2 linked regions of the Homo sapiens genome follow. The protein of the gene in region 1 interacts with the protein of each later gene in a biochemical or structural test. Each region holds a gene or a part of one and is shown on either strand. Other genes may lie near its edges.

Region 1 (3,624 bases):
TTTTTCCACTTTTTTTCTTCTCAAAGGTGGTTTTTTGGGGGGAGAAGCAGGGGACTCCGCAGCGGGCCCCTGCCTTCCACATGCCCCCACCATTTTTCTTTGCCGGTTTGCATGAGTGGAAGGTCTAAATGTGGCTTTTTTTTTTTTTTTTCCTGGGAATTTTTTTGGGGAAAAGGGAGGGATGGGTCTAGGGAGTGGGAAATGCGGGAGGGAGGGTGGGGGGCAGGGGTCGGGGGTCGGGTGTCCGGGAGCCAGGGAAGACTGGAAATGCTGCCGCCTTCTGCAATTTATTTATTTTTTTCTTTTGAGAGAGTGAAAGGAAGAGACAGATACTTGAAACTTGGTGTGTGGCCTGGTTATTTGGGACCTGGGTGTGGAGGGAGATGGGCGCAGCAGAGTCAGATCCTTCTTCACTCCAAGCCAGAGAGGTTAGTGGCCTGGAAAATGGGCCAGGGAGGTAACTGGCAAATCAAGGAACCCGAGTTGGTGAAGACTGAGCCTGGGAAGGTCTGGAGCTCTGTCCAAAGTCATGACAGGCCAGAAAGGGGAGGCTGGAACTTGTCTGGGGCCCTGCAGACTTAGTCCAGCTCTGATCCCTGCCGGGCTGTCTCAGTCCTGTTGGGAAGCACAACAGTCCTTAAAGGAAAATAGAGAGGAAACTTCGTTCATTCATGTTCATGGAGTTGTGGACAGAGCTAGGATCTGGAAATGATTTTTTTTGTTTTTTTGTTTTTTTTTTTGAGACAGAGTCTTGCTCTGTCGCACAGGCTGGAGTGCAGTGGCTCGATCTCGGCTCACTGTGATCTCTGCCACCCTGGTTCAAGTGATTCTCCTGCCTCAGCCCCCTGAGTAGCTGGGATTACAGATTACTGCCACCATGCCTGGCTAATTTTGTATTTTTAGTAGAGATGGGGTTTCACCATGTTGGTCAGGCTGGTCTTGAACTCCTGACCTTGTTATCCACCCGCCTCAGCCTCCCAAAGTGCTGGGATTACAGGCGTGAGCCACCGCGCCTGGCCTGGAAATGATCTTTACAGAGTTCTGCTGATAAGAACTGCTGTGTGAATATACGCTAGGTTTCTTTATGCGCCCCCCCCACCCTTTTTTTTTTTTTTTTGAGACAGAGTTTCGCTCTTTCGCTCAGGCTGGAGTGCTGTGGTGCGATCTTGGCTCACTGCAACCTCTGCCTGCTGGGTTCACACGGTTCTCCTGCCTCAGCCTCTCGAATAGCTGGGATTACAGGCGCCTGCCACCACTCCTGGCTAATTTTTGTATTTTTAGTAGAGATGGGGTTTTGCTTTGTTGGCCAGGCTGGTCTCGAACTCCTGACCTCAGGTGATCCGCCCAGCTTGGCCTCCCACAGTGTTAAGATTACAGGCATGAGCCACTACGCCCAGCCTTTATGTCCTATCTCTATGGGAAAGATCTGAGGCAGCTTTGTAAATAATGAGGGTAGGAAAATAAGAATCTAAATGCCAAAGATGAAAACTGGAGAAATGTATATGAACTGTGAGGGTAAATGTGATCTCTGAGCTTCCTGATAGCCATGGCAAAAAAGGAAATTGTCAATTACCTACTTCTTTATTATAAGGGAGAAATAATTTTAGTTCTTTTAGGGAGTCATATTTTCCTGGCCCTAAGTCCTAACTGAAGCTCCTGAGATCCTGCTATGTAGAATGGTGACTCTCAGCCTTCTGCCTTCTTCATGTGTTTGGCACAGATGAACCTTTGGGGGCACCTGCTGGGGTACTATTCCTTTCTCTGATTCTCAGGTGCTCCAGTGGGTAAGGCTGAGGCAGAGGGCCCTAAGAGTTATGGTGGTTAAATCCCAAACAGTGCAAAAGGGCATTTTTTGTAGCCACTCCTGACTAAAGTTGAGAGTTTCATGCAAAAGACCAACCCAGGGGTAGTGATTCTGTGGATGGCATGGCCGTCCAAGCCTAAAGTAGTCCAAGAATAGAGGCAGAGATTGCTGAAGGGGTGTCACTTCAACCAGTAGCCACGTATTGCCCTGCAGGATTTTCTATGCAGGACCGAGTCCATCAGGATCCTGGGGATAGGGACCAGGGGTCTGCATTTCTGGAAAGCTCCCGGGTGATTTTGATGTCTCACTGGGTGGAGAAGCACTGCTTCAGAGGATTTTTTTTTTTTTTTTTTTGAGGTCGAGTTTCACTTTTGTTGCCCAAGCTGGAGTGCAATGGCGCGATCTCGGCTCACTGCAACCTCCAACTCCAGGGTTCAAGTGATTCTCCTGCCTCAGCTTCCCAAGTAGCTGGGATTACAGATGCGTGCCATAACACACAGCTATTTTTTAATATTTTTAGTAGAAACGGGGTTTCACCATGTTAGCCAAGCTGGTCTCAAACTCTTGACCTCAGGTGATCTGCCCGCCTTGGCCTCCCAAAGTGCTGGGATTACAGGCGTGAGCCACTGCACCTGGCCCTGATGTTTTTCAAATAATCCTTCTCTTAGCTTGGTTCTGTGTAATAGCAGATGGCTTGAGGCTGTGATAACGTTCTCTATCGTGAGCTGAAGGGAGAAATCTAGGAGCTGAGGAAGGTGTGTGCAGGTAATGCGTCTGCGTGTTAAACTAGAAGGGGCAGAATCACATATTTGACCTGGATGGGGTAGAATCACATAATTTTGCATGTATTATTATTATTATTATTATTATTATTATTGGAGACAGAGTTTCGCTCTTGTTGCCCAGGCTGGAGTGCAGTGGTGCGATCTCTGCTCACTGCAACCTCTGCCTTCCGGATTCAAGCTATTCTCCTGCCTCAGCCTCCCGAGTAGCTGGGATTACAGGTGCATGCCACCACGCCCAGCTAATTTTTTGTATTTAGTAGAGATGGGGATTTCACCATATTGATCAGGCTGGTCTCGAACTCCTGACCTCGGGTGATCCACCCCCCCCCCCCTCGGCCTCCCAAAGTGCTAGGATTACAGGCATGAGCCACCGCGCCTGGCCTGCATGCATTATTTTGTAAATTATAATCAGTACACGTACCTGACAACAATTCAAATAAATATAGAAATACATACTGTTTTTAAAAAGTTTCCTTCCTGTTTCCCTCCAGGCATTATTCCTCAGGGGAAGCACGGTTGCCGCTGGGGCTGTATTCTTCCAAGGCCATGGCCTGGCCGCTTGAGAAGGCAATGTAATTAATGCATTGGAGCCCTGGGCTCCCAAACAACATAGGTTCAAATCCTGGTTCCTCTTCTCCCCACACTTTTTACTTCTTTCAGTAAATACTTCCTTGGATGTTCCTTGGAACCAGGCAGTGTTCTAGATGCTGGGAAGGCAACATCCCTGTCCTTAGGGAACTTTGGGTGCATCCAGTGGAGATGACAGACTATAGGGAGTAAGTGAACACAGAGTGTTTAGACAATGATGGGTGCTACTATGAAAGAGAGTGATGGCCCTTGCTGGTTTAGACCGGGCGGTCAGGGAGGCCCCTTGCAGCATCATTTGGGTGGAGGCCTGAAGGACAACAAAGACTGGGGTGGTGAGAGTGTGCCAAGTAGGGAGACGAACAGTCTGGAAGGAATAAATTTGAAAGGTTGGAGGACAGAAGGAGGCCACTGGAGTGGAGTAGGGTGGGGGACAGAGAGAAATAGGTG
Region 2 (3,653 bases), on another chromosome or scaffold:
GGCGGAAGTTGCAGTGAGCCGAGAGCGTGCCACTGTACTCCAGCCTGGTGACAGAGCGAAACTCCGTCTCAAAAAAAAATAAAAAAATAAAAATAAATAAAAATAAATAAAAAATAATTTTTTCAGAAGCATTTCCACTGATTAATTTTTAATAACATTACTTCCCCTTCCAAATAATGGAAAACACTGATACGCCACTGCATTATTTATCCAACCAATACTTTCTATTTGCAATTCCACAAACATATTAGTTTAGCTATTATTACGGTGATTCCATGTGATTAAAAATATTTATATTTATGGCATTAGAAATAAACATAAATTTATCTTTCAAAGATCAATTCTTTATCTCCTCAAAAGTTTTCTTTACATGCCATGATTATTCTGAAATGAACATTTTAGAGTATATATATATATATTTCTGTAGTTTGTATCATTTAAATTATGATCATCAAATACCCAAGTCCCTGAATGTAGTACAAAACATTGCTTATCAATTAGCAGGCTATTAGTCCTTTGAAATCAAGAACACTTTGCTTCTTGAGAACACTGCAGTATTTCTAGAAAAAAATCACTGAGAGGCTGGGCCTAAAAAATAGACATTATATATATTTTCCCCCCAAGACATAAAGTCTAATTTTACCTGCATTGTCAGAGAAACAGACTGTTTAAACCAGAGGAAATGAGTCCTCTTAGGGTTAAATATGGAGACAATAATTTATATGCTGGCTTCCTTCCTCCAGTCTCCTCTCTACTCTCTTACAAGCAGAGATTTCTACATAGCTGTTCTATACACACGGGGGAATATGGAAGTCCTCAGAACTATTTATTTTCTAAGATTTCCTTGGGAGGTAGAATTTCATAAATGATTCCTACATCATTTTGCTGCATACTTTTCAGAGGCATTTCAGAAAATATCTAAGTCAAGCACACTTCTTGGATAGATGAATGAAAAAGAGGTGGTTTCTCCACTAAGAATTTCTTTGAGCTCAAAAATCAAGTTCAATATAAATTCTCCAGGCAAAATTATTCAATCACAAAAATCTCAAAAAGGCTTAAATTTTCTTAGAAGACATAAAAAAGATACTAATTTTACTATGTAAGAATGTTAAACAGTTTTGTAAATTAAAACCAAAATGAAATAAAAAGAAGTGACAAAATGGAAAAAATACTTGAGAAGCATATTACGAGGTGCTAGCTTATCTCTAGTAAAAAAAAGCTTTCACGAATTATAAAAATAGACAAAAGAACTTGTAGTTTCACAAAATGAAATAAAGTCGTTGATGAACAGATTAAATCTTCAACCTCAGTCATAACTCAATAAAAGCCCTTAAAAACAATGAGGTACAGCTTTTTACCTATCAGATTGGCAAAGATGAAAAACTTGGAATATGCAGCACTAGTGCAGTGTAGACAAGGTATAGACAAACAGGCACTCAAACTACTGGCAGAAATATAAATCCGTGTGTAACCTTCTTAGAAGGCAATTCTACGTAATATCTCTCAAAGTAAAAATACACATATATTTTGATGCAGCAATTCTACTGGATCCCAGTTACCCTAGTACTTATGTGAAATATGCAGGGAGAACAATGTATGTACTACATCATCTCTAACAGCTAAACATAACAAACAACCTAACTGTCCATTAGGAGGAAAATGCAAATAAATTATGATATATCTATAAAAAATGGGTCCCATGCATCTATTAAGAATGAGGTAGAGCTCTTAAGACATAGTTAGTGAAAAGAACAAAGTATAGAAGATCTATATGATAGAATTCCATCAATAGAAAACACAATGTGTGTGCAGATTTGCATGGATTGCATATATTTGTAAATGCAAAGAAACATTCTGAAAGCCACATCAACTGTGATGGGACTGGGTGAGGGTAAAAGGCTTTCACTTATTTCAATATTTTCCCATATAGTTTTAATTTTTACCATTCTGTATATGTTACTTTTAAAATATAATTTAAAACACTAAAGTTAAATTGCATTTTATTTAAAATAACCAAATCTTTACACCATGTAGGAAACCCTCCACGAAAAACCCTGAAGTTGGAACAGCTGTATTAGGGACCCGGTGTCTTTCTGCTTTAATAGGAGTGGCATGTAAAAGTGATTCATAAGCGCTTTGTGCATTTACCGTTAAAATGCCAAAATCAAGTAGGGGATAAAATTCATAGTCTAGTCTATATTACCAAAGCATTTCTAAAGAAAAAATTTAAACATTTAAACAGATATTCTGATACCACCTTTTAACATAACTTTAGGGTATGTTTAGGGGTAGGCCTGGCTGGTAAAAAATATTTCATTAAAAAAAATTAGTCAACTGCTTAGAATTGCAACTAATACTTATGAAATGCAAAAAAAGCACATTTTAAACCCTAATATTTAGTGGGAAAATATTACAAAAGAGTTATATCCATTGCAAAAGGATTCTATTGATATAAATGTATATAATTTCATGTATTAAGAATTACAGAACCTGAAAGACAAGTTAACCTTAAGTTTATAGTTTAAAATCTGAGATTAAAAACACGAATGAGCCTTTTCCACCTTTTCATTCTTTGTTTCAACTTAAGTTACACAGAAGATTTCCTCACTGGGTTTTATGTAGCACTGTCACCTTGTACGCACCTGTCAGGCTGTCTGGCCTGGGTGGAACCATCCTCTCATAAATGTCATACTGCTGCTGTCCGAATTGCTCCATGTCATGAACAGTCCTTTGCAGTGAAGGTCCCAGATGCTGTGGTACGGCGGTCATCCCTGAGCGTTTGGGGGACGACGACCCCACCTGGCCTTGGGATGGGGAAGCTACTCGAGTCTGTGCATCCGTCAGGGTCAGTGGGGACCCCACTCTGGCGGTGGTTTGGTATTGAGGGGTTGGTCCGTTGGGATTGGAGGTCTGCCGGGAGGTGACTGACCCAATCCGCCGTATAGCTGTTGGGGAGGCGGGTCTCTGTGAGTACGGAGAGGCTGCCCGTGCAGCAGGTAATGTGGTGGAGGAATATGCACTGGGGTTCAGAGGTCGGGGGTCGGTCACTGACGGAGAGCCAAATCCACTACCCAGAGAAGTTCTCAGAGACCCCCTTGAAGGAGACACGCCTGTGCTGATAACATAAGAAGGAGACTGTGCTCTAGATGGAACTGAACTAACTCTTCTCATGGCCCGATTGGCTACTGATGGCTGATGAAAGGGGGGGAAAAAAGAGAATGGGTTTATCCAGGGTTTTGTGTTCATTGCCATTACAAAAGAAATACACATAGCTCACTACAGAATGTGAATCCACTATTTTAGGCATCTAAGATTCTTTTCCTTTTTATGCTTTGAGCCAGACATTAATTTTTCCTCACGGTGCTTTAGTTGTTTTAGTTTTTTTTTTTTTTTTTGGTGGTTTAAACCAAATGCTAAAATTAACCTGTAAAAAGAGATCTGAAGACATTTAATACTCCTTTTTTATCTTTACATTTTTAACTATTGCCTATGCATTTTTCACAGCACATAAAATGTTTTATTCTAAGTGTTACATGTAATTCATGAGCGTGAAGGGGCACCAGAACAATGTACTTACTTCATTCCCTATGAAGCAAAGTTTGGCCAAGGCAATGCATTTATGTAAAACAAAAATTTGAATATAATTTGAATAT

Evidence for each region. Proteins that work in one complex are often made in the same cells at the same time.
Region 2: the proteins of DLG4 (region 1) and PKP4 interact in a test that uses a peptide from one of them, tested with the Homo sapiens proteins (2 studies listed by IntAct, with this or other methods).

The regions. Positions count from the first base shown.
Region 1 is NC_000017.11:7,186,605-7,190,228, reverse strand, and holds the end of DLG4 (disks large homolog 4), read left to right. Parts: 3' UTR 1-3,042; downstream 3,043-3,624. UniProt on the Homo sapiens protein: Postsynaptic scaffolding protein that plays a critical role in synaptogenesis and synaptic plasticity by providing a platform for the postsynaptic clustering of crucial synaptic proteins.
Region 2 is NC_000002.12:158,624,417-158,628,069, reverse strand, and holds part of PKP4 (plakophilin-4), read right to left. Parts: intron 3,193-3,653; coding exon 2,643-3,192; intron 1-2,642. UniProt on the Homo sapiens protein: Plays a role as a regulator of Rho activity during cytokinesis. May play a role in junctional plaques.